2 separate regions of the Homo sapiens genome follow, and region 1 is linked to region 2. Evidence: fine-mapped expression QTL. Tissue or cell type: T cells. Region 2 holds a variant in brackets; the other region holds the start of a gene. All regions are shown on one strand. Distances are between the middles of the regions.

Evidence for each region.
Region 1: it holds the start of TOGARAM2, and the variant in region 2 is fine-mapped to the expression of TOGARAM2 in T cells (TOPMed, PIP above 0.99).

The regions. Positions count from the first base shown.
Region 1 is chr2:28,974,343-28,989,806 of GRCh38, forward strand. TOGARAM2 (TOG array regulator of axonemal microtubules 2) reads left to right here and starts at 6,956. Exons shown (of 20, transcript NM_199280.4): 1 at 6,956-7,196.
Region 2 is chr2:29,003,630-29,019,093 of GRCh38, forward strand. TOGARAM2 (TOG array regulator of axonemal microtubules 2) reads left to right here. Exons shown (of 20, transcript NM_199280.4): 6 at 1-53; 7 at 7,826-7,872; 8 at 10,766-10,932; 9 at 13,525-13,675; 10 at 14,163-14,327. Among named protein-coding and RNA genes, the nearest start is that of TOGARAM2, 30 kb to the left of the region's middle. RefSeq lists enhancers at 7,533-7,662, 11,689-11,738. The variant C/A (reference allele first, on the strand shown) is at 7,049.

The sequences.
Region 1 (15,464 bases), 29 kb before region 2:
GTCTTGAACCCCTGACCTCAAGTGATCCACATGCCTCGGCCTCTTAACGATGTGTCTTGATGTGGATTTCTTTGGATTCATCCTATGTGGGGGTGCTTGGCTTCTTGGATCTGTAGATTAGTATCTTTTACCATATTTGGAGAGTTTCCAGCCATTATTTCTTTGAATTCTTTTTCAGACCCACACCCTTTCTCCTCTCCTTGAACTCCAGTCATACAAATGTTAGATATTTTGTTGTAGTCCCACGGTCCCTGGGGCTCTGTTCATTTCTTTTTTATTTTTATTTTTTGAGACAGGGTCTTGCTGTGTCACCCAGGCTGGGGTGCAGTGGCTTGATCTTGGCTCACTAAAGCCTCTGCCTCCCTGGTTCAAGTGATTCTCCTGCCTCAGCCTCTTGAGTAGCTGGGATTATAGGCATGGACCACTATGCCTGGCTAATTTTTGTATTATTATTATTATTATTTTTTTAATAGAGACAGGGTTTCACTATATTGGCCAGTCTGGTCTTGAACTCCTGACCTCAAGTGATCCTCCCACCTTGGCCTCCCAAATTGTTGGGATTACAGCCATGAGCCACTGTGCCCGGCCTTGTTCATTTCTTTTCAGTCTATATTTTTTCTGTTGGTTGCTATCGAGTAATTTCTATGGTTTTATGTTCAAGTTCACTGATTTTTTTCCTCTATCATAGTCATATTAATGCTGTTATTTATATTGTATTTTTCTTTCTTAAATTTTTTTTTTCCCTTTACTCCTGTGACAGATTATGTATTTTTTAGTTTTAAAACTTCCAGTTGTTTTTCTTTGTGTCTTGTGTTTCTTTGCTGAGACGTTTTATTTTTTTAATTTTTATTGTTATTATTTTTTGAGACAGAGTCTCACTCTGTCACCCAGGCTGGAGTGCAGTGGTGCGATCTTGGCTCACTGCAAGCTCCACCTCCCAGGTTCATGCCATTCTCCTGCCTCAGCCTCCTGAGTAGTTGGGACTACAGGTGCCCGCCACCACGCCCGGCTATGTTTTTGTGTTTTTAGTAGAGACGGGGTTTCACTGTGTTTGCCAGGATGGTCTCGATCTCCTGACCTCGTGATCTGCCCGCCTCGGCCTCCCAAAGTGCTGGGATTACAGGTGTGAGCCAGTGTGCGAGCCACTGCGCCCGGCCGAGACATTTTATTTTTTAATGTGTTTTAAGCACGTTCATAATTGCAAATTGAAGCATTTTTATGATGACTATTTAGAAATCCTTGTTAGAGAATCCTCAAATCTGTGTCATCTGGGCGCTGCATCATTGATTGCCTCTTCTCATTCAAGTTATTTTACCTGTTCTTGGTATAATGAGTGGTTTTCAGTTGTCTCCTAGACATTTTGGGTATTGTGTTGTGAGATTCTAGGTCCTCTTCTGTCTTCTTTTTTTGCAGGGCATTTATCCTGTTTAGGTCTAGCACACAGATCTAGGTGGGATTGGATGTTCGCTTCACCACTGGGCCTTGCTGATACCATCTCAGCAAAAGCAGGATATTGCCTCACACCCCTATGCCTTTCCTCATTGCTGATGATGGGATGGAATTTCAGCTCCCCACTGGGCCCTGCTGGTGGAGGCTTTTTAAAAAAATGACAATATATGTACAGGAATATGTACATATTATAAGTATGTGAAACATATGCTTAATTTTTACAAAGTGGAAGTTTAGGAGCATTTTACACATTTTCCTATTTCTTTGCATGTTCTTATAAAAACATATCAAATTCTGGGCCAGGTGTGGCGGCTCACGCCTGTAATCCCAGCACTTTGGGAGGCCGAGGTGGATGGATCACGAGGTCAGGAGATCGAGACCATCCTGGCTAACATGGTGAAACCCCGTCTCTACTAAAAATACAAAATAATTAGCCGGACGTGGTGGCGGGTGCCTGTAGTCCCAGCTACTCAGGAGGCTGAGGCAGGAGAATGGCGTGAACCTGGAAGGCGGAGCTTGCAGTGAGCTGAGATCACACCACTGCACTCCAGCCTGGGCGACAGAGTGAGACTCCATCTCAAAAACAACAACAACAACAACAACAAAAACCCATCAAATTCTTTTTTGCCATTAGCTTCTGGAGTTATTTACTCACCTATTAACTCCTCCCCTCCCCCTGCCCTCCATCTCTCGAGCTTTCCTGTGGCTGTGGGGCAGGGAGCTGCTCTTCTCTGACACGTCCTTTTGTGGAATGGGGAGAAAGGAGGGAGAGGCACACCCCATGTGAGATGAGGGGTTGGCTTCTGTTGGGAGAAGCCCTGAAGGGCAGCTGGGGCCAGAAGCAGCATAACCAGAAGGCGTTAGTCCCCATCCTGTCATTACCACTGAATTCCTGTGTGACTCCATCATCTGCGATAAGAGGGGCTTGGCCTAGTCCTCTCTCTGATCCTGTGCTTAGGTTGCATACATTATTCTAGAGTTTCCCAGGAACTTCCCAGGGAACACGTCAGCCCAGTGGCAGGTGCTGGTTGGGAGGGGCCTGTTCTGTGTCCTTGGCAGTGTCTGAGCACCCCCACCCAGCCTGTGGTACTGACAGGGCCTTTCAGGCTCTCCAGGCTGGGGCTGGCCTTGGAGGGGGTGGGGCAGTGGTATTTTGGGAGATAAGCCAGCACAGTGTCAGTCTGGAGGCAGTGCCAGCTTGCCTCCATTATCCGCTTTTCTACCTGGGGGGGCGTGGCCTGTGAAGGGATGGGGGGCTTCCAGCCTTTCTCCTCAGCCTGGGCCAGGGCCCAGGACACAGGGCATCAGGGCTCTAAGGGACCAGGAGGTCACCCAGTGTCTGATCACAAATGACAGTTTGGAAGCCCAAGGAGGGCAGGGACTTGTTGGAGGGCACACAGTAATGGTGACAAAGTCAGGACTGGAACCAACTCTCTGTCCACTTGCCTGGAACCCTTGGCCATGCCCTATGCTAACCATCTTTAGCCTGGGGGCACCTTATCCTGAGGGATGGGTACCTGAGACAGAGATGGGGGAGGCGCCTGAGCATACCACCTCCTAGGGTCCCTACCAGGGGCCCTTGCTCCCCATGCTCCCTGGGATCTGACCTCCAGCTAGGCCTGGGATGGTCCTGGTTTATAAGGGGGCAACACCAGCCCAGGGGGTCAGAACTCCCCCTACCTGTTCCCTGCCATACAATGTATGGGGCTGAGACTCTGGTCTGCAGCTTGGATCTCAGGTCTGGTCCTGGAAGAAGCGGTGAATGTTGCAGGGGCGGGGGCTTCTTATGCCGCCAGCCACTTCCTCTCCCCACGTGCAGTCAGGTTGGTGTCGCTCTCTCAACACCCATGTGGAACCTGGCTGGCGCTGGTTCCAGAGATATAAGGCATGAATCCTGCCCCCAAGGAGCTCACAGTCTAGGTCTGTGTGGCTGGCTGGTGGGCCAGGAGAGGGGCGGGCAGTTACAGTCAGCGGATGAGTGGTGCTGTGATAGGGAAGTGCTGGCCCTAGAAAGGCAGATGAGAGGCACCTCTTTTCTAGAGAGTCAGTAAGGACTCCCCTTGGGAGCACGTGGGTGGGAATTGGCCAAGGGAGATAGGTATAAAGTGTTTTTTTTTTGGTTGTTTTTGTTTTGAGATGGAGTCTCATTCTGTCATCCAGGCTGGAGTGCAGTGGCACAATCTCGACTCATTGCAACTTCTGCCTCCTGGGCTCAAGCAATTCTCCTGTCTCAGCCTCCTGAGTAGCTGAGATTACAGGCATGCGCCACCATGCCCAGCTAATTTTTGTATTTTTGGTAGAGACGGGGTTTTACCATGTTGCCCAGGCTGGTCTCGAACCCCTGGCCTCAGGTGATCTGCCTGCTTTGGCCTCCTAAAGTGCTGGGATGACAGGCGTGAGCCACCGTGCCCGGCCGGAGATGGGTATAAGTAAGGGGTAGGAAGGGATATGGGAAAGGCTTTTGGGGTGGAGGGAACAGCATGAACAAAGGCCAGGAGAGGAGAGGAGCATGACAGCTACATCCCAGAGCAAGGGGAGAAGACCCCTCAGTGAAGTCCCTGCTAATAGCCCAGCTACGTGTTCAGGAGACTATTTGGATATAGGATGCTCAGGTCATTTGCAATGGGAAGTGTGTTCAGGGTATCTAGTCCTTCTTGTTGCTAGACATAGAAACAGCTTTGTTCACTTTACAAATCAACAAGGGCCAAGAGGACTCTTGGTGACATTTTTACTGAGGGAACAGGATCAGAATTTAGTAGTCTTCCACTGACCAAATCCATCAGCATGGAAAGTTATAGAATGTTGGTTTCTGAAATCTTGAGTAGATTTCTGGGGTAGATGGGGGCTATCCCCTGTGGATGTGGAGGGGGCTACTTATTTGGTACTTTCAAGAGCCCTCTTCCCAGCTTGTGATTCTGTATTGTGAGTCAGTTTAATTCATTCACATCAAGTATTTGTTCATCGGTTCTGGGGGTGGGAGCAGGCCAGTGTGAGCACACCCAGGAGAGTCGGGGCAATGACTGGGAACACTGGGCACTGGAGGAGACAGGTGACATCTGGTTTCCTTCATAGCTGTTGACCCTCTTCCGAGGGTCTGGCCGCCCTTCCACCAGGGGTCGATACAGGCTTTGTGAGACTCGAGGCTTAAACAATTTGGGGGCTTCTTTAAGAAAGAAAACAAAATTAAGTATGAAAATATTTTTTTAGAATGAGAAAAGAAGTCACAACAAATGACTGAGGGCTGGATTCGTGTCCCTTTCTTTCTGAGGTCTCTTCAGGGGAGTTCCAGAGAGCTTCCAGGTGGCAGCCTGGCTGCCCTCCCCACCTGGAGTGCCCCAATCCTTCCAGGCAGCTCCTGGCTCCCCCAGAGGCCCGGGGCTCAGGTTGTGTTTGCCTCAGCGGTTTCCACCCATGCTCCTCGACTGGCCTGCTCCTTACCTCGGGGATTTCATGTGGATGTCACACCTCACTGCCCCTGGGATTCGCTCTCTGTCCATGGTCACAGTGAGGGTGAGTGCGTGCTCTGTGCCTGGCGGGCACACTGAGGGTCACTGGAGCCACCCCAGGGAGGGAGGATCTGCAGTCTTCCTGCTAGGCATATGAAAGAACCAAGACTCAGAGAGTTTGTTTCTTGCCTAAGATGTCATTGCTGGGATCAGAATCCAGTCTGGAATCCAGGGGCTTCAGAGCCCTGGTTCTTAAGGGCTGTGCTGTGTTATCCATCCTCCCTTATTGCAGGTAACACAGGAACAAGCAGGGGGTTACCTGCTGGGGCCTCTCTCCATCACTCAGCTCCTGAGGGCAGGCTGTGCTGCCTCCTGTGTCTCTAGCATTTGGCACAGAGCATGGCCAGCCCACCTTGGGAACACATAATGCTCGGCCATCCAGTGGAGGCAGAGTGTGGAGAGCCCAGGAGCTGAAGGAGGATGCAGTGGGGCCTGATTAGAGGGGCTTGGCAGCCATGGTGCTAAGTCTGGCCCTTACACCAAGGACAGCAGGGGCCATGAGGGGTGTCCAGCAGGGCACGGCCATCGGATCTGTGTTCTAGAAGCTCCGACTCAAGCAGCGACATGCAGATGGGCTTTGGGGGAGCTGCACACACACCATCTCCCTGCCAGAGCTGAGGGACACCAAAACCTGCCTTGTCACGTCCCCGCCCTGGGTTCCCATGGTTGAGTCGCTCTCACTCACAAGCTGTGTGGCTTGGGGCAAGGGCTTAACTTGCCAGGCCTCTCTTTCCCCACCTGGGCATCTTCATACCTGTCTCCCAAGGGGAATCCGCACAGCCACTGTTCCTGGTTTGGAGGAAGAGTCTCCTTTCTGGGCCTCTGCTACAGGGAGTTCAGGAGTTCCGTTCGCCTTGTCAGCTGTGACCTCTGGCTTGGGGCCAGCACCTGCCCCAGAGGGACCTTGTTCTCAGTCATAATTGGCTGGCCCTCCTTGCTCCCTCCTGGATCTTGGTAAATGACAGCAGCTACTCCCAAGGCCTGCCCTCCCTGGCCATCTCAGGGAAGAGGAGAGAGTCCCAGGAAGGAGCTACCCCGTGTGCAAGCATTTCAGCAGCCCAGGCCTCGTGGGGTGTAGTTGGCCTCCCACCAGCCATCCCTGTGTGTTCCACACACCTGCTGATTCCTTTGTACAGAATATGGGGAGGAGCTGCCTGGGAAAATTCATAGTATCTTTGGGCGAGTGGCTGTTTGCAAGCCTGCATACAAATTGAGTCCTTGGCTTCCACTGTGTGCCCCCTGGATGGTGAGGGCTAGAAGGGGGTAGCATGAGGAGTGGGACTGGCTGTCATTCCAGAGAGAGGATGCCAGCCTGGGATTTCCGCCCAAGAGCCTGGGTTCAGTGAGAAAGTACACATGGGCTGCTAGGATTCACATTTTCCAAAAGTTAAGGTGGAGAAATCTGGTTGGGACGAAGGCCACAGGCTTTCTGCTCTGCAAGGATTTCTGGGGAAGTGATGGAGAGCCTACCAAGTGCTAGACAAAATTACAAGCTGTTACATGCACCTTTGAAATCCTTACAGCAACCCTATCAAGTCAGTACTATTGGTGTACCCATTTTATAGATGAGGAAACTGAGGTCAAGAAAGGTAAAGTTCTGACCAGAGGGCACACAGCTGGAAGTAGCAGGATCAGGATTCAAACCCAGCTGCCTGCTGCCAAGGCCTGGATGCTCACTCTGTCTTTCTGCCTCTAGGAGAGTTAGTAAACAGAAGCAGATTGAGCCCAGAGGCCATGTGAGCAAAACCAGGAGTTCTACCAACAACATCCCTGCACCAAGCCAGCTATGCACTTCCTGGCTGCAGTCACCAGGCAGGGGGGCCCAGTGCTCTCTCTTTCTGTGGTGTCCATGACCCTAGAGGACAGGTCGGCCACTTGGTAGTGCCTGTGCTCCGGTGAGCCACAGAGGCAATGAGACCAAGGGGAAAATCTCTCGGCTCGGTCTCTCCCCCGCGCAGGGAGCTATGGGCTCCTTCAGCGAGTGGTTGCTATGCAGCCTTGTTTATTCAAGGAGAGCTTTGCTGAGAGCTGGAGCACGCCAGCAGTGGAGCTCGTGGCCACCCAGCCCCTGCTCAGACAGGAGGCTGCGGCCCAGGACTGTGTGGCTGGTGGGGGCCAGGGTGGGCCAGGCCTGGGGCTGCCCCGTCCTTGCCTCCCTGGGCCCATGAGCATCAACGTCTCTATAGAGACCAAGGACCCTGGATTCCTCCAGTGACAGGGGTTTGGCCTCTGGACAGAGAGGTGAGAGACGATAGGTCCACCAAGCCATCTATTGTAGGTGGTGAATGGGAGGCTGGGTCAGGACCCCTGAAGTCCCTGGAGGGAGGGATAAAGACCTGAACTGGAGCAAGCACAAACACACAGAGAAAGAAAAAGCATCCTGCTGTGACTTGGAGGCTGTGTGACCGTGGGGATGTCTCTGACCCTTTCTGGGCCTTCATGTGGCAGCTCTAGGGGAGGAGGTTGGACTCACTGTTCTCTGAGCACTGGGAGCCAAGGAAGGAGGGGCTGGCCTGGGCTGACCCCTTCCCCGAGTCATGGCCTCTGTGGGCAGTGCTCTCTACCTCAGGGTGAACCCTTCACAGGGCAACAGCTCCCTGGGGTGCTGTGGGCGATGGTGCCGGGAAGGGTGGGGGCATGCTGTGGGGATGGCACCCGTGCTTAGGGGTGCTGGGGCACCCCGTGAGAGCATAGGCCTTGGAGGGGCTCTGCTCTGGGTTTGAATTCTAACCCCCCCTCTTTCTGGCTGTGTGGACTTGAGCTCTTTGCCTCTCTGAGCCTCAGGTTTCTCATCTGTGAAGAAGGGTTTAAAAAAAGCCCCCTTGGTGCTGTCTGTGAGCATGGAGACAGTCAGGAGGGCAGCTGGCACGTTAGCCCATGCGCAGAATGGAAGTTACTGTTTGTTGTTGATGCTGTTGTTAGGTGGAGATTGGCATGTTCCTTTCTGGAGCACATTTCAGTCTCCTGAAACTAAGGTTTTGCCAGTCACTTCTCCAGGACAAGGGCTGGTGCTGGCGGGGGACCTCAGAGGGCTGCCATTTCCTCAGGAGCGCTGGGAGGGGAGGGACTGGGGCCCGTACTCTGTCGGAGCATCACTGAGGCAGGCCACAGGGCATTGGTGCCTGGCCCCAGGAAGTGGTGTGAGGGGCCCATAATCGCTTCTATCCTGAACTGGGCAGTCCCTCGCTCTTCTCACCAATGCCCTGCAGGAGACGGCCCTGCAGCCTTCTAGCCACAGGCTGGCTCCCAGGACTGGCTCAGTTTCAGCCCATGGAGCCTGAGACTAACAGATTTGAAGAAAGGGGGAGGTAGTTGGGGGCAAGGGATGGGGAGATGTCAACCTGAGCTCTGGAGAGACCTGCCTCTGAGGGCAGCGCATCCTCCCATTGACCCCACGGCTACCTCAGAGGCACCAGACTCTGCTCACTAGCACAGAGGCTGGAAGTTTATTATTGCAGACAGAAGAATGCATAAAATGCATGCAGTGTGAGGAATAATTATAAAGTGAATGTCCATGTAGCCACCTCCCAGGCCAAGAAACAGAAAAACTGGCCGCCTCCCAGAACCCACCCCCGTGGGCCCTGTCCTTATCACAGCTGCCTCCCTTCCCCTTAGGGTTAATCATGCTACTAATTTTTCCTTGATTTTCTATCAAGTTTTCCATCTATGTCTGCATTTTTATTTTAATTTAATTTCGCTTCATTTTTTGAGACAAGGTTTCACTCTGTCCCCCAGGTGGGAGTACAGTGGCATGATCTCAGCTCACTGCAACCTCTGCCTCCTAGGCTCAAGTGTTCCTCCCACCTCAGCTTCCCAAGTAGCTGGGTGTACAGGTGCACACCACCATGCCCGGCTAATCTTTGTGTGTGTGTATATATAAATATATATATATATATATATATTTTTTTTTTTTTTTTTTTTTTTTTTTTGTAGAGATGGGTTTTTTCCATGTTGCTCAGCCTGGTCTCGAATTCCTGGCTCAGGTGATATGCCTGCCTTGGCCTCCCAAAGTGCTGGGATCACAGGTGTGAGCCACCACGCTGGGCCTATGTATGCATTTCTAAACACTCGATGTAATTTTGTCTTTCTTTGAACTTTATAGAAGTAGGGGCATACCCTGTGTGGTCTCTTGGGTCTGTCTTCTTTCACTAAACATTACGCTGTGGCATCGTCCATAGTGTTGAGTGGGGCAGTCGTTTGTTTCATTGCTCTGTAATATTCTATGTTGTGAGTGCACCATGATTTAGTCCTTCATTTTCCTGTTGGACATTTAGATTTTTTCCAGATTTTGGCCATTATCCATGGCACTGCTCTGGACACTCTCGAGCTCCTTTCCTGGATCACCTGTGCAAGACTTTCTCAAGGGTGGGTTCCTAGGAGTGGAATTGCTGAACATTAGGTTTGTGCATTTTTAGCTTTATCAGGTAAAGCCAGACCACTTTCCCAAGGGTTTGTGCCCATTTGCATCTCACCTGCCAGCTGTCATGAGTGCTCCCATTGCTCTGTGCTCTCACTAGCACTTGGCATTGCCGCCCATCTCAATTTTTGCCCATCTTTGTGGGATGGTGGTAGCATCTCATTTGCATTTTCTTGATTACCAGGGGGTTGAGCATCTGCCCCCAGCCATTCTTCCTCACCTCTTTCCTCCTCTGTTGGGTGCCTCCCTTCCTCTGCTCTCTGTGATCTCAGCCCCTCATGGTGCTCAGGCTTTTGAGCCCCATTTTTCTCTCTGCCCTCCCCACTCCTCCATCCCTCTCCTCCATTCTTCTTCTTGGAGAACCAATCACTATTCCACATACTTCTTAGTGTTTGAATTACAGACCCAGGCTCCAGAGCCACTGTCTGGAAGTCTGAGTTTCCCATTTCGTGTTTTAAAACCTCTGGTTCTTGGCCCAACTCACATCCCTTCCTGGGTCTTGGATTTCTCTTCAACAAAACAAAGACAGAAAAAAAAATGTCCCTCCACAGAAGCCATTTATATTTCCCAGGCAAAACCTGGTGTATGTCCTGGAGAGGCACACACAAAACTCTGGCTCCTATTCAAGAAAGTCGGCTTTCTCATGGGCCATTGGGAAGGGACAGGGCCGGGGTCTGAAGTCTTCTGAGCTTCTTGCAGGGAGGCCTTTGCCAAGAGCCCTTTCCTGGGGTGTGACAGACATTCAGATGCTAGAGTCATGCCAATACACCTTTGCTGAGACTTTGGACAAGATGCTTTCTTGCTTCCTAGTCCCTTCTGATCCTCTGAGTACATGTGCTTGTTTACAGTCTACAGTTTGAAGATTCAAGCTCCTGCTACTGGGCAGGAATCCTCAACTGATCAGCCAAACCCTGCAGAAGGCATTCCTGGGGCAGTGGACCAAGCCATTTTTCATTCGAGACTCCAGGACTATGATCAAGTGCTAGGATAACTCTTACCTTGATGGTGGAAATCTCAGGGCCAGCAGAAGACTTCCAAGCCCCAGCCAATGGCTGTGTGATTTCAGGCAGGATTGATGCGGTGGTATCCTACCCCTCCCAAAACCTTAATCCTTGGGAGCACACTACACAGGCTCTGACCAGGCACTGTAGTGGCAAGGTGACCATTTTGGGGAGGCCTTGATGGGAAGCTGGAAAAGGAAGCTTTCCTCCCAGTCCTGCTGAAGGCCTTGCCAGCTGGCAGCCAGTGTGATGCCTATAGGGGTATGGGCCCTGGGATAGGTATTGGCTCCTGATGGCCTTATGTAGGTGTTATAGACTGAATGCATGCGTCCCACAAATGCAAATGTTAAAGCCTAACCCCCCATGTGTTGGTATTAGGAGGTGGGGCCTTCGGGAGGTAATTAGATTCAGATGAGGTCGTGAGGGTGGTTGTCTCATGATGGGTTAGTGCCCTTAGAAGAAGAGACCAGAGAGCTTGCTCTCTGTCTCTCTCTCTGCCATGTGAGGACAAAGGGAAGACAGCTACCTGCAATCCAGGAAGTGAGTCCTCACCAGGAGTGGAATCAGCTGGCACCTTGATCTTGGACTTCCCAGCCTCCAGAACTAAATTGCTGGGGTTTTTTTTTTGTTTTGCTTTTCATTTTTTTGTTTTGTTTTTGTTTTTGTTTTAAGTCGGAGTTTTGCTCTTGTTGCCCAGGCTGGAGTGCAATGGTGTGATCTCGGCTCATTAACCCCTCATTTACAAGGGAGGAAACTAGCTGACCTCCAAGGCCCCTTCCAGCTTGAAATTTAGTAACAGAAGAAAGGCATGGGAAATTCTGTTAAATTACTAGACCAAGTTCTGATTAATCTCTAATTTATATTTGCACCAACACGATACACAAAGGTGGGGGCAGGTTCAGAAGATTTTGAATTTTGTAAATTTGTGTATAAGTTACATACGCTTTGTTACTAGGACCACAGCCCACTCATATGGTTCCTTTGTGAATTAGAAAAAGATGTCTCTTTCTCAAGACACTTTTCTTCTATTCATCAGAAAAAGACTGAAATGAATGTACAAATATGTACAGTCATCGTCTAAAACAACATTGCCAGGACTTTGGAGAAGATGTAGTGTGAGGCTTATGCCTGTAATCCCAGCATTTTGGGAGGCTGAGGTGGGTGGATCACTTGAGGTCAGGAGTTCGAGACCAGCCTGGCCAACATGGCAAAACCCCGTCACTACTAATAATACACACAAAAAAATAACTAGCTGGGCATGGTGGCACATGCCTGTAATCCCAGCTACTTGCAAGGCTGAGGCAGGAGAGTTGCTTGAACCTGGGAGGTGGAGGTTGCAGTGAGCTGAGATCATGACACTGACCTCCAGCCTGGCCGACAGAGTGAAACTGTGTCTCAAAAAAAAAAAAAAAAAAGATGTAGTGTGAGAGATGTCTCCTTAATTAGGATGCCCTCGTGCAGTGCCCAACCTAGACAATCAAACATGGCAGCCCTGCTTGTCACTTATCTCATTGTTTTTCAAAAACAGCCTAAATAAAACTTTCTCTCCCCCTAGGCTTTCCTATGTCTTTTAGACTGTTAATTCTCACATCAGAATTTCCTGGGGTTGTGGAGGGGGGATGTTTTAAATGCTGCGGCCCATCCACCCCCAACCCGAGATACCCACACTGAGCTGCTATTACAAATGGATGGCCACATTCCTCGGCTGCGTTGGGCATAAAACAGTTGGGAAGTGCTGCTTTGGGTTTCTGACCACTTCCTCTGCCCTGTCCTGGGAGGTCATTAGATTCAGGTGTGAACTGCCTCCTGAACAGACTGTTCTGTTAAGAAAGGTTCTTCCCAGCAACGTGCTACTTGACCCCTGTTGTAAGTGTCCCGCCCCAGCCTGCCCACTGCTTCCTGCTCACCCTGGACAGCTCAGGAAATGGAAGGACCTCCTGCTGCACAAGGTGGCACCTCCGTGTTGCTGTCCAGCCTCAGCCAGGCCTCTGTAGCTTCTTGGCCCAAAGGCTTTCAAAAGGGACATTTCCCCTCTTCCTGAACATCTGAACACAGCAAAACAGTTACTAAACAACCAATACTATTAATAGCCACTGTGGATCGAGCCCTTGGGCCCAATCAGCCTATTAAATGTTTCTCATATTTTGTGGAATATTCTCAATAACCTTGGAGATAGATATTATTATTTCCATTTCGCAGTTAAATGGAGACTCAGAGAACTTTAATCATGTGCCTGAAGTCACACAGCTAGCAGGTGATGGAATTTAACCCTGTTGACTCCTGAATGAATGCCCTGAAATACTGCCACCTCCGTGAACAGAAACCATCAGCCCCGACTCTTCTACTTAGTAGCTCTGTGGCCTCAACCTAGTTACTTAACCTCTCTGAACCTCAATCATCTTGTCTATAAAATGAAGATGAAAATACATACTTTCTTTCTCTATTTCCAAAGCTCAATGACATAGTATTTGGAAGCACACTGTAGTACATTGCCCCGGGCGCAAAGCAAAATGGAACTAAGAAATGTTAATTCCTTCACTTAGGTTCTTCTCAATAAGACTGTCTGGAAGATGTGCTTTAGTGTTTTTTTATGAGACGGAGTCTTGCTTTGTCACCTAGGCTGGAGTGCAGTGGCATGATCTCGGTTCACTGCAAACTCCGCCTCCCAGGTTCACGCCATTCTCCTGCCTCAGCCTCCCGAGTAGCTGGGACCGCAGGCATCCACCACCACGCCCAGCTAATTTTTTGTATTTTTAGTAGACATGGGGTTTCACCATGTTAGCCAGGATAGTCTCGATCTCCTGACCTCGTGATCCGCCCACCTCGGCCTCTCAAAGTGCTGGGATTACAGGTGTGAGCCACCACACCCGGCCAATGTGCTTTAGTTTTGAATTCATTCATTCAGTCACACTACAGTTACTGCATTATTGCCATGAACCTGGCACTGTTTGTCCCTTTGTCTGCATTCTGTGGAATTGCTGGCTGGCTGCACCCTATATTGTCTGAGAACAGAGTGGCTACAGGAGTATTAACCCCACCTGATCTCACGATGGGAGAGGAGACGCCATCTGCAGCAGTGGTGGTAGACCCAGAGCTGGTAAAGAGTTGTGGTGGGGGGCTTCTCATCTGCGAACGGCCTTTCTGCTGGCCCCCACATGCCAGTCACAGCTGGAGTCAGGGGCCTGAGTGGCGGGGGGCCTTGGATGCCCCCACAGGGGGTCTGATGGGTGTGGACATCAGTCTCGCAGTTGGGGGTGAAGTGGCTCTTGGGACTGCCAGCTCTAGGAGTGGCCGAGTTGAGGGTCAGTGTGGAAACCAGCCCTGCCCCAAGCTAATAAAGATGGACATGCAGGTGGAGCCATCCAGGCCTCCTTGCAGCTTGTCTGCAGCTCCAGAGAGGGAGGTCTGGGCTCTACGGTAGGCTTGGAAGTCCCGATAATCAGATGGCAATTGAAATCACAAGGGTAGGTGCTGCCTGTAAGAAGCCCTCCTAATAAAGATGGAGGCATCTGGGAGAGGAAAGGAAAGGAATGGTTTGGTTCTTCTAAAGTCAGAATATGTCTCCGTGACTGTTCAGAACTTCACACTCCTGAGTCCAGCTCTCATGTGCAGCAGACTCACCTCCCTCTTCACTGCCAATATCAAGGCCGTTCTACGTGCCCTTTCTCTCTTCCTGACCTCTCCCTCTGTAGGACCCTTGGCTCTTCCTCCAGGGTCCGAGGACTGGTGCTCCCATCTGGCCCAGCCTGTGCCCTTCTCCCTCAGCTGTTAGCACTGGGCTCCCGCTCCATCAGCTCCCCTCCCTCCCCTGTGTCTTCAGCCTTTTCCTTCTGACTCTTTCTCCTCCTCCTGTGAACACGCTCTAGAATCTCCTACCCTGAAAAATACAGAGAACAAACAAGCAAACAAAAAATACAGAGAACAAACAAGCAAACAACACAGCTTCATCCACCCTTCATTCCCCTCCAGCTACTCTCCAACCTCTCTCCTGCCTTTCTCATCCAAATTCTCCAGCGTTGTTTGGACTCACCATCTCTATACCTTCCACTCACGCCTCAGACCTCAGCAATTTTCTGTGACCCGCATGCCTCCACAGGCACAGACCTTGCTCTCACTAAGCTCCCGATGATTCCATAATGGTCACATCCAATTGGCTGAGCTGACACCTCTAACCACTCTCTGCTCATCTGGCTCTCCTGGCGCCAACTCCCCTGGCCTCCCTGGCTGTCCTTGATCAGACCCCCTTAGGGTCTCCCCTTCTCTACCCATCTCTGCTCAATGCTGCTGCTCCCTGGGATGTTCCTTAGCTCTGGGCACTCTCTTGTGGTCAGGTTTTTGTATTTTTATTTTTTGAGCTGGAGTCTTGCTCTGTCGCCCAGGCTGGAGTGCAGTGGTGTGATCTCAGCTCACTGCAACCTCTGCCTCCCATGTTCAAGTGATTCTCCTGCCTCAGCCTCTTGAGTAGGTAGGATTAAAGACTTGTGCTACCACACCCAGCTAATTTTTGTATTTTTTGGTAGAGATGGGGTTTTGCCATGTTGGCCAGGCTGGTCTCTAACTCCTGACCTCAAGTGATCTGCCCACCTTGGCCTCCCAAAGTGCTGGGATTACAGGTGTAAGCCGCCATACCGGGCCCGCTTTTCATATTTTATTGAATGCAATATTGAAGTGAGATAAGCATTATCTCCTTTTTTTTTCTTTTTTGAGACAGGGTCTTTGTCGCCCAGACTGGAGTGCGGTGGCACAATCTCAGCTCACTGCAGCCTCAACCTCCTGCGCTCAAGTGATCCTCCTGCCTCAGCACCCCCAAGTAACTGAGACTACAGGCACAGGCCACCACGCCTGGCTAATTTTTGTATTTTTGTAGAGATGAGGTTTTACTGTGTTGCCCAGTACTGTGTTGCCCAGGCTGGTCTTGAACTCAAGCGATCTGCCAGCCTTGGCCTCCCAAAGTGCCAGGATTACAGGTGTGAGCCACCATGCCCAGCCAATTTTTGTATTTTATAGAGACGAGGTTTTACTATGTTGGCCAGGCTGGTCTCGAACTCAAGCGATCAGACAGCCTTGGCCTCCCAAAGTGCCAGGATTACA
Region 2 (15,464 bases):
CCGTTACCTCCAGGCCAGGGAGTCCTCACAGGCCTGAGGGCCCCACGCACGCGGTAAGAGCTCCAAGTCAAACCTTCCTTGCTGACTTCTCTCCCTCTGTCCCCCTGAGATCCACTGGGGCTCCTTGTGGCTGACCCTCCATGCTGTGGCAGAGTTCTTGGGACACCAGGCAGGGAAAGGGCTGGGGGCTCCACCCATGAGCCACAGACCTAGGGAGGTCCCAGCATGGTTGCCGGGGCTTCTCTGCCTCTTGGCTCCGGCAGGCTGGGTCAATGGCATCACGAACAATGTCTCCAGCCTCTGTCTTCTCCCAGTGCCTTAGTGGATGAGGTTGCCGGAGTAATGAATAAAACACTAATTATTTTATCTCATATATATAATTTTGAGATGGAGTCTCACTCTGTCGCCCAGGCTGGAGTGCAGTGGTGTGATCTCAACTCACTGCAACCTCCGCCTCCCGGGTTCAAGCGATTCTCCTGAGTAGCTGGGATTACAGGCACCCACCACCATGCCCTGCTAATTTTTGTATTTTTAGTAGAGACGGGTTTCAGCATGTTGGCCAGGCTGGTCTTGAAACTCCTGACCTCAGGTGATCTGCCCTCCTTGGCCTCCCAAAGTGCTGGGATTATAGGTGTGAGACACCGTGCCCGGCTATGAATAAAACACTATTTTAAAGCATGATTGAGTTCATGGCAGCTCTTTGTAATTAAATATTTTCTTAATTGATGGATACTAAAAATACAACCAGTATCATGTGTATGGGGGACAGTCCACAAACTTTTGGACTTGAAAAGGGGTCTTCATATCCCACAAACAAGTGGGGAAGAGGATCTTTGTGTTGGCATAAATCGGGTTATGGCTTGTAAGTAAGACAGTGCTCTAGATGGCCAGCAACATCCCCGTGGTCAGTCCAGAGTGATGTCAGAGCACGTGTGTGTGAGAGTGAGTGTGTCTGAGTGTCTTTGTGTGTGCACACATGTATGAGTGCCTGCAGGTATGTGTGAGTGTATGTGTATGAGTGTGTATGTGTGCATGTATATGTGAGTATATGCATGTATGTGAGTACAAGAGTGTGTGTGTCTGAGTATGTGTATATGTGTGAGTGCATGCATGTGTGTGTGTGTCTGAGTGTGTGTGTGCATGAGTGCAAGAGTATGTGTCTGAGTGTGTCTGAGTGCATGTGTGGAGTATGTGTGTGCATGTATGTGTATGAGTGCATCTGTGTGGAGTTGTGTGTGCATGTGTGTGGAGTGTATGTGTACATGTGTGAGTGCATGTGTGTGCATGTGTACGTGTGTGAGTGCATGTGTGTGCATGTGTGTGCATGTGTATGTGTGTGAGTGCATGTGTGTATGTGTGTGAGTGCATGTGTGTGCATGTGTATGTGTGAGTGCATGTATGTGAGTGCATGTGTGTGCATGTGTATGTGTGTGAGTGCATGTGTGTGCATGTGTATGTGTGAGTGCATGTTGTGAGTGCATGTGTATGGGTGTGTGTGCATGTGTATGTGTGTGAGTGCATGTTGTGTGTGAGTGCATGTGTAAGGGCATATGTGTGCAGTGTGTGTGTGCATGTGTGTGGGTATGTGTGCATGTGTGTATATGTGTGTGGGACCATGTGTGTGAGTGCATGTGTGTGGAGTGTGTGTGCATATGTGTGTGTGTGCATGTGTGTGTGTGGGGTATGTGTGCATGTGTGTGTGAGACCGTGTGTGTGCATGTGTGGAGCGTATGTGTGAGAACGTGCATGTATGTGGGTGCATGTATGTGGAGTGTGTGTGTGCGTGTGTGAGAGCATGCATGTGCGTGAGTGCATGTATGTGAGAGCATGTGTGACTGCATGTGTGTGCATGTGTGCATGTGTGTGAGTGCATGTGTTTGTGTAACTACGTGTGTGAAGCCATGTGTGGTGTGTGTTCATGTGTGTGGAGTGTGTGTGCATGTGTGTATGTGTGTGAGGGCATGCATGTGTGAGCATGCATGTGAGTGCATGTGTGGAGTGTGTGTGCATGTGTGTATGTGTGTGAGGGCATGCATGTGTGAGCATGCATGTGAGTGCATGTGTGGAGTGCGTGCATGTGTGAGTGCATGTGTGCATGTGTGTGAGCACATATATGTGTGTATGTGTGTGTGTGAGTACATGTGTGGAGTATCTGTGTGTGCATGTGTATGAGTGCATGTGTGTGAGTGCATGTGTGTGCATGTGTATGTGTCAGTGCATGTGTGTGCATATGTGTCAGTGCATGTTGTGAGTGCATGTGTATGTGTGTGAGTGCGTGTGTGTAAGTGCATGTGTGTGGAGTGTGTGTGTGGGGTATGTGTGCATATGTGTATTTGTGTGTGAGACCGTATGAGTGCATGTGTAGGGTGTGTATGTGTGCGTGTGTGTGTGAGACCATATGTATGTGAGTGCATGTGTGGAGTGTGTGTGTATGTGTATGTGTGAGAGCACGTGTGTGTGTGTGGGGTGCATGTGTGTGGAGTGCATATGTGTGTGCATGTGTGTGAGAGCATGCATGTGCGTAAGTACATGTGTGAGCATGTGTGACCACATGTGTGTGCATGTGTGTGAGTGCATGTGTTTGTGTGTGTGACTGTGTGTGAAGCCATTTGTGGAGTGTGTGTGCATGTGTGTGGAGTGTATATGTGTGCATGTATGTGTGCATGTGTGTGTGTGAGTGCCTGTGTGTGGAGTGTGTGCATGTGTGTGTATGTGTGTATGTGTGAGTGCATGTGTGTGCATGTGTATGTGTGTGAGTGCGTGTGTGTGAGTGCATGTGTGTTCATGTGTATCTGTGTGTGTGCATGTGTGTGCATGTGTATCTGTGTGTGAGTGCATGTGTATGTGTGAGTGCATGTGTGTGGAGTGTGTGTGCGTGTGCTCAGGGCCTATGGGCCTGGCTCCTTCAGTAGAGTCACAATCCAGTTCCTGCTGTGACTGCTTCCCTCCCGTTTCTTGGGGCCTGATGACTTGGATTCTTCCATTTTTCTCACACTTCCTCATTCCCTCCATCTCCCTGGTGCCTTCCCTCTGTGCACACACATATTCATGTCTTTCTCCGACCCTGTGGGTTATAGAGACCCGTCCATGTACCTGCTCCTGGATTCGAGTTCTCTATTCAGTTTTCACCGTCAGCCTCCTCAGACAGCAGCTTGCTCCACTGACCTCCGCCTCCTCACCATTGCACACGTCCTCCCCTTTCCCACTCAGACGCTGGCCTCTTCCTCCCCTCGGAGCAGCCTTATCTGTGCCTCTCATGACTCACTGGCCCCAGACCTGTGGCCTTTCCTCTTATCTCTTTACTCTTGACTTTTTTGCATCATTTGAACCATGGATGGCCCTTGAATTTTTCTTCTTTTTCTGCATCCTGACTTTATACCTGCTTCTCGACCTTCCAGGCAGCTTCCTGTGTGCCCTCTTCCATTTCTAAGTTCTGCCATTCCCAAAATTGTTCCAGGACTGTTTGCCCCCATCTCCTGTTTTCTCCTGGGGCCCTTATGTGTGCCCAAGTCTTCCAGATGGTGGAATGTGGGTGAGTTCACATCTCCTGCTCTAGCCCTGGAACCATCCACAGGTCAGGCTCCGGGTTTCCATCTTTCTGTTGGGCATCTCCAGTTTCTCCTGGCTGATGTGATCCAGCACCAGAGGGAGAGACAGGGAGGTTGTGCCACCATCATGGCAACAAGGACCACCTCGTGTTTCCCCAAACCACCCCCTCCCAAGACCTCCTCATTGCTGTCAAGGTGCAGACCTTCTTCTTGGCCTTCAAGTCTCAGTGTCATCTTTGACCCTTGCTCCTAGTGCCTCCTGCTCCAACACATTTCCATAGCCCCCAAGTCTTTCTTAACAGCCATGAAAGCTCCACCCCTTTCTTGCCCCTGCCTTTCCCTCTTGGTTTGTACTTCCGCTTCCTTCTTGACCTCCCCTAATAGTGCCTAGCCAGTATCCTTGCAGCCCTGTGCGCTCCATCCCCATCTTTCATTTTCCTGCTTCCCCCGCCACCTTGCACACCTCTTGCAGGCCCTTTGCCTGTATTGACATTCCTGATTGAATGAATGGCGGGTCCTTTGTGTCAAGGACCCAGGCGCATAATGCTGAGTCTCCTTGGCCTGACAATCAGGGTCCATCCAGCCCACGACCCCACAGTTCCTCCCCGCTGTCCCCCAGTGCTTGTTCTGTGGGGCCTTCTTACCCCTCCAGACCCTGAGGACCTATTACCATTTCACTCATCCATCCATCCATTTACGAGGGGACATGGTGCTTCCCCTCGTCCATCTCTGCAACCCCAACAGCCTCTCACCCCTTTCCCCACCCATTCATTTCATCTCCACTGTTCCATGTCTACCTACTCTCCCTTTAAAGGGCGGCAAGGAGGGGAAGTGGTCTTCTCTGCATTGTCCACAGGCATCCAGCCCAGGGACTGCCTCAGCCCCTCCCTTCCATTAAACAAAATAAGCAAATCTTGATTATTTAAATTTATTTTGTTTATTTATTTTGTTTTATTTATTTGTTTTTTATTTTTTATTGTTATTATTTTTTGAGATGGAGTCTCACTCTGTCACCCAGGCTGGAGTGCAGTGGCACGATCTTGGCTCACTGCAACCTCTGCCTCCTGGGTTCAAGCAATTCTTCTGTCGCAGCCTCCCGAGTAGCTGAGACTACAGGAGCATGCCACCATGCCTGGCTACATTTTGTAATTTTAGTAGAGCTGCAGTTTCATCACATTGGTTAGGCTGGTCTTGAACTCCTGACCTTAGGTGATCTGCCCACTTTGGCTTCCCAAAGTGCTGGGATTACAGGCGTGAGCCACTGCACCCAGCCAATTAAAAATATATATATTTTTTTGAGATGGAGTCTTGCTCTGTTACCCAGGCTGGAGTGCAGTGGCACGATCTCTGCTTATTGTAACCTCTGCCTCCCTGGTTCTAGTAATTCTTCTGCCTCAGCCTCCCAAGTAGCTAGGATTACAGACATGCACCACCAGGCCCGGCTAATTTTTGTATTTTTAGTAGAGCTGGGCTTTCACCATGTTGCCCAGGCTTGTCCTGAACTCCTGATCTCAGGTGATCTGCCCACCTCGGCCTCCCAAAGTGCTGGGATTACAGGTAGAAGCCACCGCACCTGGCCAGCCTATTTTATTTAAACCTCATTCTGTTCTTTAACTTGGAGCACCACAGGGCAGGGGCCATATGTCAAAAACCTCTGTGGCTTCTGTGGGGCCAGGATTGGTACCTGGCATGGATTAGTTCCGTAATAAATATCTGTCCTTTCCTGTTTGGTTTGTGACATGGATTTCCCTTTGTTGACAATGTGGGGCTCTCTAGCCAATGGAGGGGATGGAGGCTCTATTACCATTTCAGTCATCCATCTGTCCGTTTACTCACCTAAAAGCTGTTAAGCACCTACTATGTGCCAGGTGCATAGGTCACAATCTGTGTGCTCCAGCCAGGAAGTCATCAAGGTGAAGTTCAGAGAGGTGGGTGCGTAGGCGAAGGCTGCCTGTCATGTTGGTGACCCAGGAGAAAGAGATCTGAATCATGCCAGGCAGACTTCTCAGGGCAGGATGAGGGCACACTTGCGAGATGGAGATGGAGGTGGAAGAGGGAGAGACGGAAGGAGGAGTGAGCCCCTGCATCCTTGCGTGACAGCCTGCGGGGTGGGGGTGAAGGGCCTGTGTGCCAACTGAGAAGTGGGAGCTTCATCCTCCTGTAAGGAGGTGCCACCAAAGGCTTTCGGGTGTGAAAGTGGCATCTGCTGTGACTTAGAAAGGCCATGTTGGCAACCTCAGAGTGGCATGGACCGTGTAGATGGAGGTGGGGCTGCTGCAGGAATCCGGGGAGAAGGCAAAGGGTGGCTGAGCAGGGCAGAGGCAGGGAGTCTGTGGGCTGAGGATGCAGAGGTGGGGGCGGGGCGGGATGAATGGCAGGGCTAAGCCACGGGGTAGATGTGGGCTGAAGATGGGGGAGCTGAGACCATGCCGGGGTTCCTGGCTTCAGCCACTGGACAGATACTGGCACCCTTCTTGGAGACAGGGCATAGGAGAAGAGGCAGGTGCTGGGGACAGTGCTGAGGCCACTCTTGGACATGCTTAGACGTTTGGGTTGGAGCCGGGAGGGGCTCTTGCTGGAAACAGGGCTTTGCTGCTCCTGCTCCACCCACCTCCTTGGGGCCTGCGGAGGAGCCTGAGCGGTGGTGGGTTTTCTGTGAGGTTCGCACAGGGTGGGGCGGGGCTGCCACGTGCAGGAAGGCAGGGGCCCTGATCGGCATGGCCTGTCTTGGCCTCAGTCCTTTCTGCTGTGGGGTCGCTAGAGAAGGGGAGGGCAAGAGGCTTCCCCAGGGTCCACAGCTTAAGAGAAGCTGCGCCAAGTCCTCTGAGGCCAAATCCCTTGCTCAGAGCAGGTGTGTGTGTGTGTGTGTGTGTGTGTGTTGGGGGGGCGCAGAGCGGGGGAGGCTGCAGCTCAGGGCCCCAGGGGCAAAGCCGAGGCATAAGCATTGGGGTTTTTGGCATCCTGTGCTCACCTCAGGCAGCCTGGGACCTCCATGAGCTCATAGAAGCCAAGGGCAACTGTGTGGACTTTGATGCTCCACTTCCCCTCCCCGCCCGCCTCCAATCCTCTTAGTGCCGTTGGGCAGTGGTTAAGCAGTGGTGGGTTACAATGGCAAAGGCCTAGTGGGCGAGCTCCCCAGGTCAGGGGTGCCCTGGAGCATTCGCTTACTATCTCCAGCCCACACGATCCCTCCCTGTGGGTCCAGACCCAAGAGGCTGGGCCTGGCCCTGGGAGCAATGGCGAATCCCGGCTGATCTACGCCCAGGTTGAAGCTCCGCTCCTCCTGTGGACTCCCCTGACCTCCACAGTCCCCAAGGATCAGGGTTCCCCTGCATCCAGGCAGGCACTGAGGGGGGCTGTCCTACCGCCCCTCCTGCAGCCCGGCCTGGACTGTGATCCTCTGAGGCCAGTGTGTGGGATATTGTGTTCCTGACCTGTTGCTGTGGCTTGTTACTCTGTCAGCCCCCCAGTGGGTCCTGATGTCCACCGAGAAGGGAAAG[C/A]CATGTAGGACGCTGCAGGGCTGGTCTCCATGGGAACCTGAGCTCCCGGAGGGCGGGGAGTGTCATGTCTTATTGATGCTCCATTCCCAGTGTCTAGAATAGTGCTTGACACATAGTAGGTCTTCAGTAAATATCTGTTGAATAAGTAAATGGTGCTTCCAACTTAAGAAATTACAATTAAAACCAGTGCCAGGGATGCCACTGTCTTCCCCCTCCTGTGGGTAATTGGGATTGAGCTTCTGGTACAAAACAGTGGTGACTTCCTGCCACAGCAAAGGGGATCAGCTCCGCCCCCCAGGCCCTGGGATGGGGATTACAATCACGAGTGGGACTATTTAGGGGTCACTGAGCTCTCACGGGGTTGGGGCAGCTTGGAGAACTTGAGCTCAGTGCTGTCTAAGCTGGGAGGCAGTTTACCCTTGTTTACTGCAGCTGCTGTCAACTCCACAGGCCCAAGCAGCACAGCGGGAGGGTGGGGGCTTCCTTTAAGTCAGCAGTTTCTGTGTGGGTGTCAGCCTCCTGGGGAATGCGCGAGCTGCACTGCCAGGAAATGGGGCTGAACCTGGCCTGGTGGTCAGCCTGCCCTTGTGTTTGCAGAGGGAGCTGTATCTCCTGCAGCTTGAATCCTGGGCCAAGAGCCTCTGCAGGGATAACAGTGCCGTCCCCTCTGTCCCCCATCTCGGCCATTGCCCCATCCTGGAGCCACCCTGGGCTCCCCCAGCAGTGTCTCTGGCTGGCCATCCCTCATGATGCTTTTCTCTCCCCCGTTCTTTTAAGATTGGCTCGGGGGAGTGGGCCTCGGGAGAAGACCCCTGCATCTCTGGGTACGTATCTTCCATGCACACCTCCCTTTGTTATTTGACTCTCTACATTCCTGGGCTGGGTCAGGGAAACAGAATTAGGGCCAGAGGAGATCTGAGAGCTCTTGTGTCTGGGCCCTTCATTTCACAGCAGGAAGCTGAAGTCACCGGAGGTCTAACCGGAGGGTGGCAGCGGGCCCGGGCGAGGTGTGGAAGAGAAGTGACATTTATTGACACCTGCTCTGGTACGTCAGGTGTGATGACGTACACCAGCTTGTGCAGCTTGCCACGGCCTCGATAAGAGAGACAATTCTGGCCGTGTGTGACAGACGAGCTGGCACACGAAGGCTCTGTGAGCAGGATGTCCTCCCTGGTCGCTGAGCCCCATCAGGCTTGCAGCCAAGTTTCCACGGCTCCAAAGCTGGGGTCTTGACACATCAAGCAGCTGCCCCTTGCGGTGTGTTAAGCAAGTAGAGAGAGTATTCCTCACCTAGAGAATGAGAGGGTAAACCAGAGCCCACAAACCTCAGCCAGCTGGCCCCAGGAGCTTTAGCTGTCAGGATATAGGGCCAGCACAGGATTGAGGCGAGGAGAGGGGACAGGGCAGGGTAGGAGGCCTTTAAAGAGGGAGGAGGGATCCTTCCTGGATTGAACTCTATGGGGAGGTGGGACGGGTGGATGGAAGCTGAGCCTCTGCTGCAGGGTTGGGGAGCAGAACACCCCGAACCCAGGCCAGGGTGGGGAGGAGTTGGAGGCAGCCGCTCTACTGCCCGGCAGGAGGGGTGGCCTCCCCAGGACCAGCTTCCTGGCAGGTCACTCTGCTAATCAGCTCAGCTGGTGGGGCAGTTGGCGAAGGGGGGTGGCTGTTGCCCAAGAGGCCCTGGGATCAAGACACAAAGCTGGACCTGGCACAAGAAACCTCTGCGGCAGCTGCTTCTCCCCTGCTCCCGGGCCAGGCTGCAGCAGGGTGAGCTCAGGCAGTCTGTGGCGAAATGCACCGGCACCCTGAGTGACCTTAAGAGCTAACCCGGAGGACGCTGGTGTGGGGGTTGGGCCAGGAGACCCCAGTCAGTAACCACTTCCTCCCCTGGCTCTCCAGCTTGCTGCTTGAGAACCAGGTCACCAGGGACCTGTGGCAGGGGCAGGCTGCTCAGACAGGGCTTTCCAGGGCATCCCTTTGGGGTGGAGGTGAAGAAGTGACATAAAAAATAGTTAAGTCCTTAAAGGGCTCTCTGCCCTCCAGCTGGCAACTGGGCTGACACTGCCCTCTGTGTGCAACATGCCTAGCACATGGTAGGGGCTCACAGGGTCTTGTCTGAAGCTGGGGGCTTCCTCACATCTGTGGCATTCCTGCAGTCCTTGCCCTGGCCAGGTGGTGCCTACCACATGTGCCCTCTGCTCTGCCTCTTACCTCTGGGCAGATGAGGCTTCAAAGCCCCTCTTCCCCCTTGGCCCTTGATCCTTCTCCCTGCACCAAGCAGAGGAATCCTTTGCAGAAGACATGGCCTGGGCAGAGGACCTGGGTGACCTGGGAGCTCTGCACGGGCCCCAGAGGTAAGATGCCTTTTCCAGCCTCAGGCAGCCTCAGCTGGTGGCCCCATCTCAGCAGACCCCTGACTTGCAGGTTCACCCAAGGACAGTGAGCTCCAAACCCTGTGGGTGGCAGAAAATGAATGAACCTGTTTGAGCCCTGCCTTCATAATGAGAAATGTACCTTTAAAATCCGCTGATGGGGAAGATATGAATGACAAAGCAATACTGTGGATTTGATGCCATCAAGTGGAAGTGAACGGGTATTTTATCCATCCCAAGAGCATTCGAAGGTTACTGGCTGTATTAGTCAGGGTTCTCCAGAGGGACAGAACTAGTAGGATATATGTCTGTATATAAAGGAGTTTATTAGGGAGAATTGGCTCACACGATTACAAGGTGAAGTCCCACAGGCGGCCATCTGCAAGCTGGGGAAGAGAGAGGCTGGTAGTGGCTCAGTCCAAGTTCGAAAGCCTCAAACCAGGGACGCCAACAGTGCAGCCTTCAGTCTGTGACCAAAAGTCCGAGAGCCCCTGGCAAGCCACTGGTGCAAGTCTCAGAGTCCAAAGGCCAAAGAACCTGGAGTCTGATGTTTAAGGGCAGGAGGAGTAGAAGGAAGCGTCCAGCAGGGGAGAAAGCAGGCAGCCAGAAGACCCGGCAAGCAAGGTGATCCCACCTTCTTCCACCTGCTTAGTTCTAGCTGCGATGGCAGCTAGCAGCTGATTGGATGGTGCCCACCCACACTGAGGATGGGTCCTCCTCTCCCAGTCCACTGACTCAAAGGTCGATCTCCTCTGGCAGCTCCTTCACAGACACACCCAGAAACAATACTTGACCAGCTATGTAAGCATCCAATCCAGATGGCACCTAACATTAACCATCACACTGGCTCTCAGCTTTTCCGTCTGTGAAATGAGACTGGACTAGTGTTAGATCTCTGGTCCTGGCAACTCTGCCCTTTCCTGCTGCGTCATGCTTTCAGGCAAGCCCATGGTCATATGAAAGGATTGGTGGGCCCATTTTGCTTTTTCTTTTCCTGCCGTACGTACCTCCCAGGACAGATACACTTACTTATATTCTCAGGAAATGTCTTACATCTCCTGGATAACACATCTGGCCCTGTTTCCCGCCCAGCCTCCCCAATCCCACACCTATCTTGGAATAAAGTGTGCAGTGAATGAACGAATGGAGGGTGATGCTGGTCCACAGGTAGTCTGTCTCATGCCTGCCAGTGCTGCCCTGTACAGTAAACCTAACTCAGGTCTTGCTCCATTGAGGAAGAATTGAGGGTGTGGGGCTTAGCAGTAGAATTGAGCCAGCCACAGGGTCAGTGAGCTCAGCAGTGACCTGGGTGTCTTCAGCTCCACCCCTGTTCTCAACCCCTCAGAGCCAAAACCTTTGGCCTCACCCATCAGAGACAGGCCTGCCGCTGCCAAGAAGCCTGCCCTGCCTTTTTCTCAGTCTGCTCCCACGCTGACAGCCTTCTCCTTTGACTGTGCCAGAGAAGCCTGCCCTCCGCTGAAAGAAGAGGACCAGAAGGAGATCGGCACCAAGGTACCTGGGGAGCGGGAGGAGGAGGAAGTGGGGCTGGAGTGGACCGCAGGCTGCAGGAAGGCAAGCAAGTGTCTGAAGTATTCAAGAGTGGGACCAGCCACAGAGCAGAGCAAGGAGAGCCCGAGGCAGCCACCCAAGTACTAAAGGCCAGAACCTGCAGACGGGGTTGGGGTGAAGGCTGAAGAAAGGAAGAGAAAGGATGGGGGTCAGAAGCGGGGTGGGGAACTAGGTGCAGGGAAGACTGCAGAGGGTTGCTGAAGGGGTAGGAGGGAGGAAGGAAGGAGGACGGGGAGGTTGCACAGGGCTCACGAGGAAGCCGGACGTGGGGAGAGAGCAGGAAGCCTTAGGTGAACTGCGCTGCGTGGTTTGAACTAACACCCAAGATAGCAAATGAGAGGCAGCTGACTCAGGGCTGATCAGCCACGGGCTGTGCTCCAGGGACTGGCGAATACCTCACACTTCTCAGGTGACCTTGGAAGGTGGTCTCTTCCCTGGTTGGAACGAATTTAGTGAAGCTTGGGGAGTCACTGTAGTGAGGAGCCTGTGCTCATTCTTTGAGACAGAACATTCCAGGTCAAGAAGCATATCTTGAAGGCCTCCTGGGTGCATATTCTCTGTTAGAGACTGGGTGACTGTTAAATCAGCACCACAACCCTCCCACTGTAGAGAGGACCACAGAACAGGAAACACAAACAATGATTCAGTGCAGCGAAACGAGCTGATCCTCCACCCCACTTCTGCGCTCCCTCCTGTGGCCACATCGTAGGCCTTGGCATTCTAAAGTGTGTCCCCCCACCATGGTCTCAATTTCAAGCATCCCATTGGCTCACCACCTTCTCCTGCTGTTCTGCTCAATCCAGCTAATCCTTCAGTTCCAACACTTGTTCCCTCTCTGGCATCAACAATATTCTCCTTGAAACAGGATCATTGCTATCAGCATGTTAGCTCTCTGTTACCTCTTTCATTTTAAGAAAGCGGAACAAAACCAAGAGAAAATGATTGCCGTGTCTCTCTTCTCTCCTTTGTCCACTCCTGACAGGCATTAGTCCACACTCCCCACTGAAACTGCCCACATTGGAGTTGCCAATGACCTTCATCTTCCCAAATGCAGCCACGGTTAGTCCTTGTCTACCTTGACCCCATCGCAGCTTTTGATACGACTTGTGTCTCATCCTTGAATTCTCCAGCCAGGGATAGGGGTGAGGGGTGGCTCTTTTTTGGTCCTGCCTACGTGAAAGGCAGCTCCTTCCCAGCCCTTCTTGGCTGCCTCCTCCTCATCTCCCCGGCCTCTGGATGCTGGAACTCCCCCAGCGCTCAGCCCTCTGGCCTCTCGTCTATTTATACTGACCCGCTAGGTCCTCATCCAGTCCAGACATTAAGTACCATCTCTATGCTGAGGACTCCCACACCTCCCTCGCCAGCCTAGACCTTCCCTTGACCTCCAGACTAACATGTTTAGCTGCTGCTCAATATCTCTGCTTAAGTGCCTAATTATACTTCCAACTGACTGTGTCTAAAACTCAACCCTTGAATGCTCACCTCAGAAAACCTCCTCTCTCCCCAGGGGCCCACTCAACTCCAGCCTTCCAGTGGCTCAGGTCAACCACCTCGGGCGTCCTTGGCTCCTCTCTTCCTCTCTCGCCCCGCACCTCATATATCAGCGAAGAGAGTGAGCTGCACCTGAGAAGCATGTCCAGAATCTGCCCACCCCACCATCCCCATCGCCGTCCAAGCCCCACCACCTCTTGATTGGATGTTCAGCTGCCTCCTAAACACTCTTCCTGCTTCCAGTGTGAGGCTAGCTCCAGACCCTTCCCGTGCAGCAGCTGGCATGAGCCTTAGAGAAATGGAAGTTAGAACGTTCTGTGGATGTGGAAGATATTATCACTGGGGAAGGGTGAAGGGAACACAGGAAGTCTTGGTTCTATTTTGACAACTTACGAGTTGTTCTTGCGTCTTAAACTATTTCAAAATAAAAAATTATAAAAAACAACACTTAGAGACAGCCCCCACCAGTGGAAGGCAGATCATGTCACTCCTCTGCTCAAAACCTTAAACGGCTTCCTGTGTCCTTCAGAGGAGAAGCCCAGTCCTTTCCTTGGCCCGGGTGATGTGGATCCTGCCCCCTGCCTGATCTTGTGTCCTGTCACTTCTCTGACTCAGAGAGTTCAGCCAGTGTCCACCCCCTGACTGTCCCCAACCAGCCAAGCACACCCGGCCTCAGAGCTTTTGCACTCACTCCCTCTGCTTCAAACACTTCTCTCCTAGAAATCTGTGGGGCTGGTCTCCTTCCTTTATTTCTGTCTCCACTTAAGCTTCACCTCCTCGGGGAGTCCCTAGGGACCTTCTAGGCTAAAAGCCACTATCATCTCTGTCTCCTTACTTTTCTTTCAGCACATACTGCCTGATATCAGCATTTGGTCTGTTTGTTGTCTCTCCCCCACACTTCAAAGCTCTTAAGGTGCAAGGAGTTTGTCTTTTTTGTTCACTTCCAGGACAGCAATTGGCACACAGTAGAAACATTTTTGATGATTGAATGTTGATGATTGAATGAATGGGAGGTTAATAGAGTTTGCCTTGACCTTGTGCCAGATCCAAGTCACCATCTCCAAGTCTGCCCGGGAGAAGATGCAGCTGAAGCAGATGAAGGAGATGGAGCTGCTTCGGAGGCTGGAGGAGCCCAGGACAGGGCAGGAGCTCACTTCCCAGTGCCTGGGCTCCCAGAGAGCCTTCATGAAGGAAGGTACTGGGTGCCTGGTGTGGGATTTGCTCAGGCCTGGGGAGCTGAGTCCACTCTCTCATAGCCTGCTGATGGGCCCATTTTCTTTTTTAAAATTTTTATTAGTATTTATGTATTTATTTAGAGATGGAGCCTCACTCTGTGGCCCAGGCTAAAGGGCAGTGACACAATCACAGCTCACCACAGCCTCAAACTCTTGGGCTCAAGGGATCCTCCCACCTCAGCCTCCCAAGTAGTGGGAAATACAGACGTGTGCTACCATGCTTGGCTAATTTCTTTTAAATTTTCTGTAGAGATGGGCATCTCCCTATGTTGCCCAGGCTGGTCTTGAACTCCTGGCCTCAAGCCATCCTCCTACCTCGGACTCCCAACATGTTGGGGGTACTGGCATGAGCTACTTTGGCCAGCCATGGGTCCATTTTCAAAGGAGGACATTGAGGCCAGGGGAAAACAGACCTGCCTAGTCCTAGGACTTTCTCTGTGTCCACAGGCCTCCTTCCCCTCCGGGGCAGCGGGACACTGTCTGTGCCCACTAGGCTGAGCGGCCCATGCAGAAACGACGTCAGCATCATCCTGAGGAAGTGGGCCAGCCGGGCCTCCCTGCCCAGCATCCCCATCAGCCGGCAGGAGCCCCGCTTTGCCCGCCACGCCTCAGGTGGGCAGGCCCGACTGGCAGGCACACGTGTCCCTCTGCCCATGCTGCCTCAGGATGCCCTGAGGCATGGCAGAGGTGACCTCGGTGGCTTTGCTTCCGCCCCTTGTCCATGTTAGACCAGGAGGCAGCCTGGGGTGGTGGTTGCCTTGCCAGAGAGAGAAACAGTGTCAGGGACTCATCATTGTCTACAGGCTGGGCTTGGGACCCAGGATGTCACAACTGGAGTTGTGATGTCCTCAGCCTGTGTGACATGTCCGGAGGAGTGACCAGTGCACGAGGGCCAAAGACACTAGACAATAGCACCCAAGGAAGCAGCTGTGAACAGCAGAAAGAGGATGAGAGGATTGGGGAAGACCTCGGTTTCTTTCCTGTTGCTTCATAAAATGTCAGGGCTGGACAGCACTGGCTACAGACAGGAATCAGAGGGTCCAGAGCTTCTACCAGGGCACCTCAGGAATCGTGCCTGGGACATGGGGACGCTCTGTCCCCATTCTACCAGAGGAGCTTCTATGTTGCCTCATTTTTTTTTTTTGTATACTGGGCATTCATGTGAGATTTCATTTGGAAAGATTTTGCTACTGAAAAAAACTTAAAAACAGTCAGCTTGGTTCAGAGTTTCTGTAAGTGTGGGATGTGATGGTAAATGATCATGGACTAGAGCATAATTTCCATGCTGTAAATAATGCCAGCTCATCTCCCTTTTCAATCCTCTTTCTATCCTTTCAATTGTCTCAAGTAGAAAGTCTGAATTTGGTGCTAGTCTTTAGCACCTCTTTTTTTATTTTTATTATTTTTTATAAAGAAAAGAGGTTTAATTGGTTCATAGTTCCACAGGCTGTACAGGAACCATAGTTGCTTCTGCTGCTGGGGAGGCCTCAGGAAACTTGCAATCATGGTGGCACCTCTCTCTTTAAACAAGGAGATCCTCTTTCAGGCTCAAAGACAGAAGCTGCCTACAAATTTTTTAGCTAGAGTTTTAACATTGTTTTACTTTCATTGTAAATATTTATCATATTCTATGACAAACAATGTTAGTTTATGGTAGTGACAGAAAGTTCCCTTTAAAGTTAAATTCTTTAGGATTTGAAATTCTTTTGTGATTTGAAGTGCAATGTAAATGAAAGGACAGGCTATTGA